Homo sapiens: one gene and its partners. The protein of the gene in region 2 purifies or fractionates together with the protein of the main gene of each other region. This does not show direct contact. Each region holds a gene or a part of one and is shown on either strand. Other genes may lie near its edges.

The links. The genes of interacting proteins can lie anywhere in the genome.
Region 1: the proteins of NUSAP1 (region 2) and SHCBP1 purify together in Homo sapiens (affinity purification with western blotting, with the first as the bait; one study listed by BioGRID). This does not show direct contact.
Region 3: the proteins of NUSAP1 (region 2) and FGF17 purify together in Homo sapiens (co-immunoprecipitation; one large-scale study listed by IntAct). This does not show direct contact.
Region 4: the proteins of NUSAP1 (region 2) and SZRD1 purify together in Homo sapiens (co-immunoprecipitation; one large-scale study listed by IntAct). This does not show direct contact.

What each region holds. Positions count from the first base shown.
Region 1 is NC_000016.10:46,586,880-46,590,379, reverse strand, and holds part of SHCBP1 (SHC SH2 domain-binding protein 1), read left to right. Parts: intron 1-3,500. UniProt on the Homo sapiens protein: May play a role in signaling pathways governing cellular proliferation, cell growth and differentiation. May be a component of a novel signaling pathway downstream of Shc. Acts as a positive regulator of FGF signaling in neural progenitor cells.
Region 2 is NC_000015.10:41,377,881-41,381,546, reverse strand, and holds the end of NUSAP1 (nucleolar and spindle-associated protein 1), read right to left. Parts: intron 1,455-3,666; coding exon 1,361-1,454; 3' UTR 501-1,360; downstream 1-500. UniProt on the Homo sapiens protein: Microtubule-associated protein with the capacity to bundle and stabilize microtubules. May associate with chromosomes and promote the organization of mitotic spindle microtubules around them.
Region 3 is NC_000008.11:22,041,473-22,045,619, forward strand, and holds the start of FGF17 (fibroblast growth factor 17 isoform 1 precursor), read left to right. Parts: upstream 1-1,347; 5' UTR 1,348-1,456; coding exon 1,457-1,491; intron 1,492-1,672; coding exon 1,673-1,709; intron 1,710-3,076; exon of another isoform or gene 3,077-4,147. UniProt on the Homo sapiens protein: Plays an important role in the regulation of embryonic development and as signaling molecule in the induction and patterning of the embryonic brain. Required for normal brain development.
Region 4 is NC_000001.11:16,373,742-16,377,241, reverse strand, and holds part of SZRD1 (SUZ RNA-binding domain-containing), read right to left. Parts: intron 1-3,500.

The DNA of each region.
Region 1 (3,500 bases), on a different chromosome or scaffold from region 2:
TGCCTGTTCACTCTGATGGTAGTTTGTTCTGCTGTGCAGAAGCTCTTTAGTTTAACTAGATCCCATTTGTCAATTTTGGCTTTTGTTGCCATTGCTTTTGGTGTTTTAGTCATGAAGTCCTGCCATGCGTATGTCCTGAATGGTATTGCCTAGATTTTCTTCTAGGGTTTTAATGGTTTTAGGTCTAACATTTAAGTCTTTAATCCATCTTGAATTAATTTTTGTAAGGTGTAAGGAAGGGATCCAGTTTCAGCTTTCTACATATGACTAGCCAGTTTTCCCAGCACCATTTATTAAATAGGGAATCCTTTCCCCATTTCTTGTTTTTGTCAGGTTTGTCAAAGATCAGATGGTTGTAGATGTGTGGTATTATTTCTGAGGGCTCTGTTCTGTTCCATTGGTCTATATCTCTGTTTTGGTACCAGTACCATGCTGTTTTGGTTACTGTAGTCTTGTAGTATAGTTTGAAGTCAGGTAGCGTGATGCCTCCAGCTTTGTTCTTTTGGCTTAGGATTGTCTTGGCGATGTGGGCTCTTTTTTGGTTCCATATGAACTTTAAAGTAGTTTTTCCAATTCTGTGAAGAAAGTCCTTGGTAGCTTGATGGGGATGGCATTGAATCTATAAATTACCTTGGGCAGTATGGCCATTTTCATGATATTGATTCTTCCTATCCATGAGCATGGAATGTTCTTCCATTTGTGTCCTCTTTTATTTCATTGAGCAGTGGTTTGTAGTTCTCCTTGAAGAGGTCCTTCACATCCCTTATAAGTTGGATTCCTAAGTATTTTATTCTCTTTGAAGCAATTTTGAATGGGAGTTCACTTATGATTTGACTCTCTGTTTATCTGTTATTGGTGTATAGGAATGCTTGTGATTTTTGCACATTGATTTTGTATCCTGAGACTTTGCTGAAGTTGCTTATCAGCTTAAGGAGATATTGGGCTGAGACGATGGGGTTTTCTAGATATGCAATCATGTCATCTGCAAACAGGGACAATTTGACTTCCTCTTTTCCTAATTCAATACCCTTTATTTCTTTCTCCTGCCTGATTGCCCTGGCCAGAACTTCCAACACTATGTTGAATAGGAGTGGTGAGAGAGGGCATCCCTGTCTTGTGTGACAGTTTTCAAAGGGAATGCTTCCAGTTTTTGCCCATTGATTATGATATTGGCTGTGGGTTTGTCATAAACAGCTCTTATTATTTTGAGATACATCCCATCAATACCTAGTTTATTGAGAGTTTTTAGCATGAGACGCTGTTGAATTTTGTTGAAGGCCTTTTCTGCATCTATTGAGATAATCATGTGGTTTTTGTCTTTGGTTCTGTTTATATGATGGATTACGTTTATTGATTTGCATATGTTGAACCAGCCTTGCATCCCAGGGATGAAGCCAACTTGATCATGGTGGATAAGCTTTTTGATGTGCTGCTGGATTCGGTTTGCCAGTATTTTATTGAGGATTTTTGCATCGATGTTCATCAGGCATATTGGTCTAAATTCTCTTTTTTTGTTGTGTCTCTGCCAGGCTTTGGTATCAGGATGATGCTGGCCTCATAAAATGAGTTAGGGAGGATTCCCTCTTTTTCTATTGATTGGAATAGTTTCAGAAGGAATGGTACCAGCTCCTCTTTGTACCTCTGGTAGAATTCGGCTGTGAATCCGTCTGGTCCTAGACTTTTTTTGATTGGTAGGCTATTAAATATTGCCTCAATTTCCGAACCTGTTACTGGTCTATTCAGAGATTCAACTTCTTCCTGGTTTAGTCTTGGGAGGGTGTATGTGTTGAGGAATTTATCCATTTCTTCTAGATTTTCTAGTTTATTTGCATAGAGGTGTTTATAGTGTTCTCTGATGGTAGTTTGTATTTCTGTGGGATTGGTGGTGATATCCCCTTTATTAGTTTTTATTGCATCTATTTGATTCTTCTCTCTTTTTTCTTCTTTATTAGTCTTGCTAGTGGTCTGTCAATTTTGTTAATCTTTTCAGAAAACCAACTCCTGGATTCATTGATTTTTTGAAGGGTTTTTTGTGTCTCTATTTCCTTCAGTTCTTCTCTGATCTTAGTGATTTCTTGCCTTCTGCTAGCTTTGGAATGTGCTTTCTCTTGCTTCTCTAGTTCTTTTAATTGTGATGTTAGGGTGTCAATTTTAGATCTTTCCTGCTTTCTCTTGTGGGCATTTAGTGCTATAAATTTCCTTCTACACACTGCTTTAAATGTGTCCCAGAGATTCTGGTATGTTGTGTCTTTGTTCTCGTTGGTTTCAAAGAACATCTTTGTTTGTGCCTTCATTTCGTTATGTACCCAGTTGTCATTCAGGAGCAGGTTGTTCAGTGTCCATGTAGTGGAGCAGTTTTGTTTTGAGTGAGTTTCTTAATCCTCAGTTCTAGTTTGATTGCACTGTGGTCTGAGAGACAGTTTGTTATAATTTCTGTTCTTTTATATTTGCTGAGGAGTGCTTTACTTCCAACTATGTGGTCAATTTTGGAATAAGTGTGATGTGGTGCTGTGAAGAATGTATATTTTGTTGATTTGGGGTGGAGAGTTCTGTAGATGTCTATTAGGTCCGCTTGGTGCAGAGCTGAGTTCAATTCCTGGGTATCCTTGTTAACTTTCTGTCTTGTTGATCTGTCTAATGTTGACAGTGGGGTGTTAAAGTCTCCCATTATTATTGTGTGGGAGTCTAAGTCTCTTTGTAGGTCTCTAAGGGCATGCTTTATGAATCCGGTGCTCCTGTATTGGGTGCATATATATTTAGGATAGTTATATGCACCCATATATATTTAGGATAGTTAGCTCTTGTTGAATAGTCTTTTTCTATTGTTTTAATTTCAACTTGCCTATATTCTGTTTGAAGTGAGTTGTAGACAGCATATAGTTGAGTCATGTTTTTAATCCACTTTGGCAATCTTTGTCTTTTAATTGTATTTAGACCACTTACATTTAATTATTGATATTAAATCTTTAGTTTATTTCGTGTTTTCTGTTTGTTATGCTTTTCATTTCTTGATTTGCTTTTTTTCTGCCATCCTGTGGATAGCTGAACATTTTTCAGAATTTCATTTGTTTTTGAGAATATCTCTTCATATAACTTTTTTAGTGGTCGCCCTAGGTTGTATATTATATGTACATAACAGTTTACTGGTGTCACCAGTTCAAGTAAAGTATAGAAACCTTGCCTCCTTTTATTATTCTCTACCATCTCCTTTTTATAATTGTCTTAAACATTTGCCTTATGTACGTACATCTAGAACCATATTAGAGAATTTTATGATTTTTGTTTCAAATGTCAAACATAATTTAGAACACTCAAGAGAAGGAAAGCTTATTGTATTTACCTATATCTTTGCTTACTGTGTTCTTTTTTTTTCTTTTTGATGTTCCAGGATCTTCTCTTTTATCATTTCTTTTTTGTTTAGATAACTTCCTTTAGTCATTCTATGAAGATACGTCTGCTGGTGACAAATTTTCCTATTTTTCCTTCTTCTTAGAATATCT
Region 2 (3,666 bases):
CTTACTGAATTTATTAGTTCTAGGAGCTTTTTAGTGAAATCCTTAGGATTTTCTCTATGTAAGATCCTGGTGGTTTTTTCTTTTTTCAGATAGGGTCTCACTACCTAATGGCATGGCTAGATTACACGGTAGACATACTGTTAACTTTTCAAAGAAACTAGCAAACTGTTTTCCAAAGTGGTTGTGACATTTTACATTTCCATCAGATGTGTATTTGACCCTGAATTTTTAAAATTGATCTGATCTCTTCCCCTTGATAGGAAAATCTGAATGTTTCCAGTACCCGGAAGTGTGCCATGTCCTAAAGCCTCGTATATACAAAACAGCATTTAATAAAACCTGAGAGGTACTCTGGGAATATAAAGGAAGCATACTGCCGTTTCTTTTTTGAATGGAAGCAGTGGTCAGGAAAGGGCATACCAAGGGTATGTATAAACTCTTGTTAAGCCTAGCTGCTCACCTAAATCTTGGAAGACTTATGTTTACAAAGAATGAATCTATGACAATGAGAAAAAATTTTATTTATGACGATCTTGAGCAGTATAAAACTCAGAAGCTCCACTGAGGTGAAGGAAACATGGACATGATACTAAGCAAAGCCTAGTCTTTTCCATAAAATGAATAAGAAGTACATTTGGTGGAGTTTGAGACCAGCCTGGGCAACACAGTGAGACCCTGTCTCTAAAAGCATTAAAGCATTAATCCTCGCATTTCGATAGGGCTATGTAGCTTTTAAGTAAGCAATGTTAGAATGAGTTGTAGAGTTTTATTTTTGTGAATATAGTGAGTGACAGATGGCAATTACATGAGGATATTTGAACGAAGGTACATAAGCCTAAACAATTTCACCTAGGTAAAATATTGATGTCATAACCAAACTATATGGCCCCGTTTCATAAAGGTTACTATATTCTATAGAGAGTGAAGAGGTGGCCTTTCTATCCCAGCTTACCCTATTCTTGTTATTGTTCAAATTCTCCTGAAGCTTGCATAACTAGCTGCCATCAGGTAAATGCTATTGGCTAGCAGAAGACTGCAGTTCTGTTAATATTAGAACCAGCAGGGGGAACTTGGGAACTTGACATTAAAAATCTAGAAACAGAATTTTAGGATGGGTCTCGTTAGAAACCTGAATTGTTAATGGACTTAAGTAAAAACCATCCCAAAGAATTTGAGCTTTAAGGTGATAACGTCTTTTCAGAGATCATAGCACATGAAGAACCCATGGACACTACACAGACTATGAACAGTTAGCAGAAAAAGATCTCGTGACTAAAGTGGGGATGACAGCAAAAAAAAAAAATTTACAAAAGGAAAAAAGTTGAGAATACAGGAATATTTACAAGATGTTAAAAAATTATTAATCTTCAGCCAAAATGAGGCCCCTTCGCATTCCCAAAACCTTTGCTTTCTTCTCCTTTCGTTCTTGCTCGCGTTTCTTCCGTTGCTCTTCCCTGAGAGGGATAGGTCACACATTAAGCTCTAGGGAGGCTCCAAAACAGATACTTTAAAGCAACTATTGTTGGACTAACACCCAAACTTCCAAGCAATGACATCCAGCATACTTGTGTAAAACAGACTCTTAGAGGGCACTGTGCTCTGCCTAGTGTTTCTAACACCTGTTCGTCATTGTTGTGTTAAAGGGTTAGAAACTGGTATTTTCCTTTTGTTAACTCAGCACTCTAAAATCATGCATGGAGGCCGGGGCGCGATGGCTCATGCCTGAAATCCCAGCACGTTAGGAGGCCAAGGCAGGCAGATCACTTGAGGTCAGGAGTTCGAGACCAGCCTGGCCAAAATGGTGAAACCCCGTCTCTACTAAAAATACAAAAAAGGTAGCCAGGTGTGGTGGTGCATGCCTATAATCACAGCTACTGGGGAGGCTGAGGCAGGAGAATCCCTTGAACCCGGGAGGCGGAGGTTGCAGTGAGCCGAGATCACGCCACTGCACTCCAGACTGGGCGACAGAATGAGACTGTCTCAAAACAAACAAACAAAAATAAATAATAAAATCATGCATGGAATTGGAGTCAGGAGACACCTTGCTGATTGAATCCAACTCTTGTTATTTTACAGTTTGCTTTAGGCCAGATGCAGTGGCTCACACCTATAATCCCAGCATTTTGGGAGGCCAAGGTGGGAGGATCCCTTGTGCCCAGGAGTTCAAGGCCAAAGTAAGCTATGATCATGCCATTGTACTCCAGTCTGGGTGACAAAAAGTAAGACCCTGTCTCTAAGAAAAAAAAAAAAATTTGTTTTAAATGAGAAATGTCTACACCTAGAAATCAAAGTTGACCAGGTGTGGTAGCTCACGCCTGTAATCCCAGCACTTTGGGAGGCCAAGGTGGGTGGATCACCTGAGATCAGCAGTTTGAGACCAGCTTGGCCAAGATGGTAAAACCCCGTCTCTACTAAAAATACAAAAATTAGCTGCACGCGGGGGCGGGAACCTGTAATCCCAGCTACTCGGGAGGCTGAGGCAGCAGTATCACTTGAACCTGGGAGGCAGAGGTTGCAGTGAGCCAAGATCGCACCACCACACTCTAGCCTGGGCATCAGAGCGAGACTCCATCTCAAAAAAAAAAAAAAAAAAAAAAAAAAACCAAGATAAGTTAATATAATCTTGGGCTTTTTCTTTTTTTTTTTTGGTTTGTCTAATCCTCTGAAAGTAGAGCATAATGGCTAACTCAGTAGATCCTGGTTCTAGTTCTATTCCTTTCACTAAACTATGTGATTTTGAGCTTGACCTTTGACTTTGATTTCTTTTTTCTTTTTTGAGACGGAGTTTTGCTCTTGTTGCCCAGGCTGTAGTGCAATGGTGCAATTTCAGCTCGCCACAACCTCCGCCTCCCGGGTTCAAGTGATTCTGCTGCCTCAGCCTCCCGAGTAGCTGGGATTACAGGTATGTGCCACCACGCCCGGCTAATTTTGTATTTTTAGTAGAGATGGGGTTTCTCCATGTCTTCAACTCCTGACATCGTGATCCACCCGCCTTGGCCTCCCAGAGTACTGGGATTACAGGCGTGAGCCACCTTGCCTGGCCAACTTAATAACGGTGAGCAAAGGCCCTGGTGGCAGTCGTGTATAGCCATGAGTCAACTGACAGGTAACCCTGTGTCACGAGGGTCCAAGCAGGGAATCTGGGCCCAACCATGACTTGCTGCAACCCAGGATGAGCTCTGGCTTTAACTTGGTTTTCATGCTGAAGGAAGCCTCTAAGGACCGTCCTGGGTTTTTCCTCTTTATAGGGCCTTGACGCCTTGTAAGCCTGGTTTTCTTAGGAGTGAGGAATTTATGTCTATCTGGATATGTAGGTGCCCTGGGCTGCTGGGCATTGGTATCTGGAGAGATACCCACATGCCCTGTGTTTAGGCAGATGAGTCATGCAAGAGCAGTGCTCTGAATCTGGGTCTTCTTCTGAATCACCTGCAGAGCCTTGGAAACAATGCAGGTGCTTGGGCCTCACCCCAAATCTGCTGATTTGGAGTCCATTACACTGGAACCTAGGCAGATGTACTCAGAAAGTTATATACACGATACCACTTTTTTTTTTTTTTGAGACGGAGTCTCACTCTGTCGCCCAGGCTGGAGTGCAGTGGCGTGATCTCGGCTCACTGTAAGCTCTGCCTCCCAGGTTCCTGCCTCAGTCTCCCGAGTAGCTGGGAC
Region 3 (4,147 bases), on a different chromosome or scaffold from region 2:
CTGAGCTCTGCTTGCTCACACTGGGTCTTCCCTCAGAGACCCCCAAGCCCTCCTATCTTCTGCAGTCACCGTCATCCACTTTTCTGTAGGGAGGGAACAGCATGGAGCTCTCTGTTCACCGGTCTCCAGGACCTCGGATTCCACCTTTAATCCTGAAAACCCAGGAAGGCTTCTGTATCCCTACAATGAAGCAGGTTTGGGGCTGGATCTGCAGGGTGGCAACTCAATCCATGCAGAACAGAAGAAGCATGGACTTTTCCATTCTGGCTATTCCATTCACTAGCTGGGCCATTCTGAGCAAACTACCTCCCAATGTGCCTCAGTTTCCTCATCTGCAAAATGGGCTAGTCGCTGGCATTGTACCGAGCAGTATGAGACCGGAGGTCATGGGAAGAGGCTGGTAGGCACTTCATCCCAGGCAGCTGCTCAGGGACATGGGACACAGGGAGGGGACTCCGAGCTGCTCCTAGCTCAGAGAGGCTCTAGGGACAGGCACTGGAAGGAAGGGGATGCAGAATGGTGAGTGGAGCTGGGTCTCAGAACACAGACATCTTGAAGTCTGCTATGTGCTGATTTCACACTTGACCCCCCAACACCCTGAGGCATTACTGTCCTCATTTCTCAGATGGAACTACAGAGGCCCAAGGAAAAGGGGCTTAGGCCAGGACACCCAGCTCTTCTCCAAGTGTCTGTCTCAGGCTAGCTTTTGCAACTCTCCATTGGGATTCTTCCTAGATCTCCATCTGTACCTGCCAACCCACCTCTGACCCCCAACCTGTTGCGCCCAGTATTTGCTGCCGATCAGGACAGCCTTAACCCCTCCTTCCCGGGCAATCAGCTGCTCCAAGCCAAGCCCACCCCTGCCCCCTGGAGGGAGGCGGCTCCTTTTAAGGCTGCTTCTGGGAATTTCCACTCCAGAGCCAGAACCAGAGACCCCAGCCCCACTTGACACCTGCGGCTCACCCTTGGGGAGGTGGGGCGCCAGACCTGAGTGCAGGAGACGCAGACCTGGAAGGGCTCCCCCTCCCTGACCTGCCACACATCGAGTTTGTCTGCGTCGAGTTTGGCCAGTCTGTGAGGGTCAGGAATAGAGCAGGAGACAGCAGGGCCACCTCCTTCAGAAGGCCCCCACCGCTCCATCCCTGCACTGGGTGGCCCAGGAGAGACTGGCAGCCCAGAGGGCACAGCGCGCACGCCCCCACCCGCATCTGCTTTGCAGCCTCACTGGCCAGGAAGGTGGACACCTCATACCTCAGTCTCCCAATTACGCCCTCCTCCTCCCCCTCCTCCTCCCTCTTTTCTCTCCTCCTCCTCCCCTTTCTCTCCTCCTCGCCCCCCTGAAAACCTGTGGCTCGGAGAGACCTTGGCTTCTCTGGGACTCTACCCCTGGGGACTTCCCACATCTGCTCCTGAGCTTGGGGGCAGGGGGGCAACCGCCTGAGGAACCTCTCCAGCGATGGGAGCCGCCCGCCTGCTGCCCAACCTCACTCTGTAAGTGTGCTACCTCTCCCACTGGAGTTTCGTTGCCATTTCCAGCCTCAGGGCAGCCCTCCTCTTCCCGGGACTCCCACGCGTGCGTGCACGGGGCTGGCAGGGCGGGGGCGGGGGCCTGGGTGCACCCTAGGCTTGCAGCTGGCACCCACACCTGGGCTTACCTCCTCTCCCCACACAGGTGCTTACAGCTGCTGATTCTCTGCTGTCAAACTCAGGTAGGCGGGCATTCCCACCGGCTTTCCCCCAATTTTTCCACCCTACCTGACCAGGGCGGGTGCAAGGGACCGGCTCCTTTCAGGTGGACAGAGGCAGAGTCTGGCCTCTCCCTGGGTCCAGGAGGCACTGAGGTTTGGAGGGGAGTGAGCCTTTGACCGGGTGGGCAGGGAAGGGGGCTGACTGAGGTTTTGTCTCTGTCCTCCCTCTGAGGACCCTCCCCACTTCCCCTGGGTCTCTGCTCCTCTTCCTCCCTCTCCATCGGGTTCCCCCAGACTTGAGGGATGGAGCCTGGAGCGGTTGGAAGCAGGTGGAGGTGATGGCTCAGGTGAGGCTTGGGTTTGCCAGTACCTGAAAGGACAGGTTTTGATGCAAGACCACTTGTATGTCCTTCTCGCCACCCCACTCCCATCAATATGGATGCCTGGGGTGGGGGTCTCGTGAGCATGTCCAGAATGCCTGGCCAGGGTGAGGTGACTCCTCACCTAGAGGGCACAGAGGTCAAGCCCAAAGAGGTTTGTTTGGGACGGGATGCAGGGTTCGCTTCTCCACACTCCCCCCACCCCAAGTCGGCCCCCCACCTCCCTCCATGCACACCTCCCACCCCCAAGTCTCAGCCCCCAGTGCGAGGCTTGCTCCCTTTTTTGTGATCCTCCATAAAAGTGCAGCTATTAAAATGCACTGGTCCAGAACCGCTCTGGGGAGAGATCGCTTGGCTTTCCCAGGCCAGAGGCCCGCTTCTCTTCATATCCAGTGGGGACTTTTTTTGAAGGTAAATGCCTTTTCTCTGGGAGAGGGAAAGGGGCAGCCTTTGAAGCAGTGGGGGGGTGGGAGAGGGAGAGACAATTCCCCCCCCCTTCCTTCCCCCTTTTGCTCCAGCCCCGTTCCAGGCCTTTTGCTTCACACATCCAGGGGGAGCCAGAAGAAAGCCCCCAGCCTGGCTGGGAGGGGGCTGGGGGTGGGCCCAACCTGTTCTGGAGGGGAACTAGCACAATGGTGCGGCTGGCCGGGCGTTTATGGCCTGGCTGAGGCCCCATTCAGGACTCAGGGAAGGTGGCAAAGCGGTCCTTTCCCCCTTGAAGTGCCCCCTCACCCCCCTGGGAGGGGGGGCCAGCAGGCCGGACCACAGCCATGCTTGAGGGGCTGTCTGACAAGCAGCTGTCTGCAGTGGTGGAAGGGGAGGTCCTCCCGCAGCGGGAACATGAAAGGGACAGGCTAGGTCCCGCGGGGAGAGGGACTTGTGGGTTGTGGGCTGTGGGGGGGCGTGGGGCTGCTTTTGTGAAAAGCTTGAAGGGGGACGAGGAAAGGAGGGGGCTTCGGGGGGGCGCTTTCTGCTCCTGACCTGGAACAGACTGCCAGAGGAGGCCGTCGGCCAAGAGGGGCGGAGGGCCTGAACCTGGGCCAGGAGGCGGGGCTGGGATAGGCAGGACCCCACCCCCTGGAAGGGAGGCCAGCGTGGGGCAGGCTGGGCAGGTCCCCCACCCCAAATGCTCCAGGGTGGGGCGAGGGGCAGGTCTTGCAGAGGCTAGGCAGAGGCTGCTCTATGGGGAGGTGCAATTGGAAATGAGCAACGGTGCACAGTAAGTGTTAACCCCGCGCAGGTTAAATGTCCAGCTCTGAGAGCTGCTCCCTCACTCCCCCTGCCTCAAAGGTGATATTTCCCACCCCCTCCCTAGGAGAGAGTAGCCCCTAACAGATGCTAATCTGGGTCTAGCTCTGTCCAGATGGCTGAGGTTGGGCCTGGGATAAAGGTGGAATTAGGGATTTGGGGCAGGGGCTGAGAAAAGCTGTCCCAGCACAGGCAGCGGCATCCAGGTGGAGACAAAACCAGCAAAAAAGGTACATTCTCATGCTAGAGCTGAGGCTGTTGCCAGGAGCCAGGAAACCTAGCCCGGGTCGCACCTTGCAGGATGGAGGGGAAGAAGTACTCAGTCTCTCCCACTCAGCCTTACAGATGGGTAACGAGAGACCTAGCTGGGAGGCGGTACTCCTCCTGGCTTTGCACAGTGCGTGGGGGGAAATGGTTCCTCTCCCCCAACCCAAAGGGGAAGCAGGTGGGCGGGCGCATCCCACCAACTGGCCAGGAGCCTCTGTTACATTGTGGCTAAGGAGCTGCCTGCCAGGGGCAGCCATTGGGCCACCGCTGATAGTGCCTGTCCTCTTGGTACTGCCTCTGCCTCCCTCCGCTAAGGAGGCACCTTGCCTGCCTGCTGTCCCATAGTGCCCAGCCCCAGCCCCAGCCCCAGCTCCAGCCCATAGAGGAGGGAGGAACACTGGAAGGGCCCTGAGCACCAGGGGGCAAGGCCGGGAAGAAGATGGGTATGAGCTCAGGATTCCACAGTTAGTGCTTCAAAGAAATGCTCATGGGACCCTGCAGGAGCTTTCAGAGTCCCCCACATGCTCTCTGGTGACCCTAACTCGCAGCACCATCTGCTCTGTG
Region 4 (3,500 bases), on a different chromosome or scaffold from region 2:
GGATGAAACAAAGACACTATTAACCCTCATCCACCAGATTTCACTTTAACACCCAAGGGTGCCCTCATCAAATCCCAGTTAGAATCGCCAGCACTCAGCAGGGGTGGCAAACACAATGCCTCCAAGCCCAAATGGCTAAAGCAGGCAGAATGGAACACAAGAGGTAACAACAGGTAAAGGAGGATTGCAGGGGAGAGCAGAGGAGAGGACAGCAGAGAGCAGCCAACAGCCGGTAAAGGCATTCAAGTTCAATATTTAAAAATCCTGCCGGCTAGGTGCAGTGGCTCACGCACCTGTACTCTGAGCTACTCAGGAGGAGGCTGAGGTGGGAGTATCACTTGAAGCGATCTGAGTTCAGATCAGTCTGGGTAACAAGGCAAGACCACCGCCCCCTCCATTTAAAAATCCTGAGCAACGTTTTTTTTTTTTTTTTTTTGAGACAGAGTCTCGCTGTGTCGCCCAGGCTGGAGTGCAGTGACACAATCTCAGCTCATTGCAACCTCTGCCTCCCAAGTTCAAGCGATTCTCCTGCCTCAGCCTCCCAGGTAGCTTGGGTTACAGGCACCTGCCACCACACCTGGCTAATTTTTGTATTTTCAGTAGAGACAAGGTTTCACCATGTTGGCCAGGCTGATCTGGAACTCCTGACCTCAAGTGATCCGCCTGCCTCGGCCCCCCAAAGTGCTGGGATTACAGGCGTGACCCAATGCGCCCTGCCCAATAATTATTTATGTTATCTTTTTCCACTTGGCCAAATGTTAAAAAGTTATTTCTCATTTATGATCAAGATTTCGACCAGCATCTCACTTGTAGTCACTGTTCTTAGCATTATAACTGAGAGCAGGATTATCGCTTGGCTCTTCAGCACTGAGTTCAAATTTCTCAGATGCAGTTTATGAGCTCATGCAGGCTACAGAGGCAGGAGGTCAATCCCAGGTGAAAACAAATGAAATGCTTCAAAGGAGCTAGTAACTAAGCATCCTAAAGCACTTAACTAGTTAATTATCTGGTGAGAAGCAAATGTAAACAAATTGCTCCAAAAAAGGTCCCTCAGAGTGTGGGCTCAGGCCTAACAGCCAGGGCTGGACCGACCACATGATTTCCTCCCCGGACCAGGAATAATAGCACCTACACCTCACAAGGTCACTGCTAATGATTGTAAAAATGCACTCCCCCTGGGCTGTAGGCAGCCATACAACATATATCTTAGAAGCTCTTCCAAAAAGGGCCCGAGGAACTTGGGAGCTTCCCACAGGCTGCGCGCTTGTTCGCCAGTGAGATGAACAACTAGATAGCAGAAACACTACTGACATATGGAAGGTCACAAATGTTTTTATAAGCTAGGAAGGGCTGGGCTGGGAATTGTTCTCAAGGTCAGTGAAGAGTGGTGACAGTCCTGACCTTTCCAGACTCAAGTCATACTTTCCTTCTATACAATCTCATCTAATCGCCATGGCCCCTGAAGAATGCAATTTTAGCTGTACATATTTATTATTCCTTTTAGAAAGGAATGACTGTTATTTCCTGTGTTCCTTTTATAAGGGAACGAGTTTGTTGGGGGGAGGGGCTGGCTTACTGTGATGGGCATTTTGAAATGTCTCACCGTCAAGGACAAGATTCTCTGTCTCGGACCGGGCGCGGTGGCTCACGCCTGTAATCCTAACACTTTGGGAGGCCGATGTGGGCAGACTGCCTGAGCTCAGGAGTTCCAGACCAGCTTGGGCAACATGGTGAACCCGTCTCTACTAAAATACAAAACATGAGTCGGGCATGGTGACATGAGCCTGTAGTCCCAGCTACTTGGGAGGGTGAGGCATGAGAATTGCTTGAACCCGGAAGGCAGAGGTTCAGTGAGCAGAAATTGCGCCACTGCACTCTAGCCTGGGTGACAGAGAGAAACTCCTTCTCAAAAAAAAGAAAAAAAAATTATCTGTCTCCATACAGACTATTGGGGTTTGTTGCTAATTTCTGTGGGGCATGGTTTTACCTTAATATCCTGCACAGAGCTAGATGTTAAAGAGAAGGATGCTTGGTAGGAGCAAACGGTTTTAAGAAAAACACTCAAAGGCCAGGCGTGGTGGCTCACGCTTGTAATCCCAGCATTTTGGGAGGCCGAGGCGGGCGGATCACGAGGTCACGAGTTTGAGACCGGCCTAGCCAACACAGTGAAACCCCATCTCTACTAAAAATACAAAAATTGGCTGGGTGTAGTGGCGAGCACCTGTAATCCCAGCTACTTGGGAGGCTGAGGCAGGAGAATCGCTCGAACCCGGGAGGCAGAGGTTGCAGCGAGCTGAGATTGCGCCACTGCACTCCAGCCTCGGCGACAGAGCTAGACTCCGTCTCAAAAAAACAAAACAAAACAAAAACACTCAAGAAGAGAAATCTCTATGGATACTACATTAAAATTTTTTTATTTTATTTTATACTTTGGCCACAGATTTAAGTAGCTAAACTCAACCTTCTCCTAGGAAACCAACAGGTCAGTAGTTTTCCTGACAGAACACACCTTGTAGAGGCTAGCTACCTGATACAGCCAGAAACTGATGCTAGCTGTCGGGGCCAACAGCAGTGGAGAGGTGGAAACTGGAAAGGGCTGGCCCCTGGAATGTTTTCAGTCATCAGACCTAGACAACTGTGACTTTTCTCTGCAGGACTGCACCAACAGTTTTAGAAAGACGCACTAAATCCTCTCCTGTCATAGAAGTAAAAACAAGAAGGCCTGTGATTGCTGGAATTTCTAGCCCACGGCAACCATGGCAGCTCTCTTGATACCCAGAGCACGCTGGGAACAGGCCCTCCCATGCAGCCAATGAAAAAAGGGCTGAGAAGTTACTAGTGAAAAGCTCATTATCCTCCTTTCTTTGAAGCCACAGTGAAACCAACCTTTTTCCAGAGTCCCAGGGACAGACTGCTCAGCAGAATCATGCCTAAACTGCCCAACTGCTTCACAGAAAGCCCCTTCTGAGGACATCACAGTCCATAAGGCTCAACCTTTCCAGAAAGACTAGCACCAACTGAGAGGTGGCCCCTTTAGGCATGGTGTATCTGGAACTGTGCTTTCTGTGATACCACAAATCTTAAATGCCTTCTTTTTACTGCAGGGACAGACATAAAGAAATCAGCACCAGATAGCCCCAAACTAATTGATCTCTTTTTTCCCACTACCCATAGCCTTTTTTTGTTGTTTTGTTGTACATGTTCCAAAATGACAGCAGCTACACAAAGCATTGGGGACCCCAGAGTGAAGCGGCAGTCACACTTTGGGGAGAATGGCCTCTTCTCCAAAGAAAGAGAAGAAAATCAAAGTTCTGATCTCCTGAATTTAATCTAACTATGGGCCGGGTGTGGTGGCTCACGCCTGCAATCCCAGCACTCCGGGAGGCTGAAACGGGAGGATCACTTATGTTCAGGCATTCGAGACCAACATGGGCAACATGGTGAGACCCTGTCTCTACAAAAAAATCAAAAATAGTCAGGTGTGGTGGCGCATGCCTGTA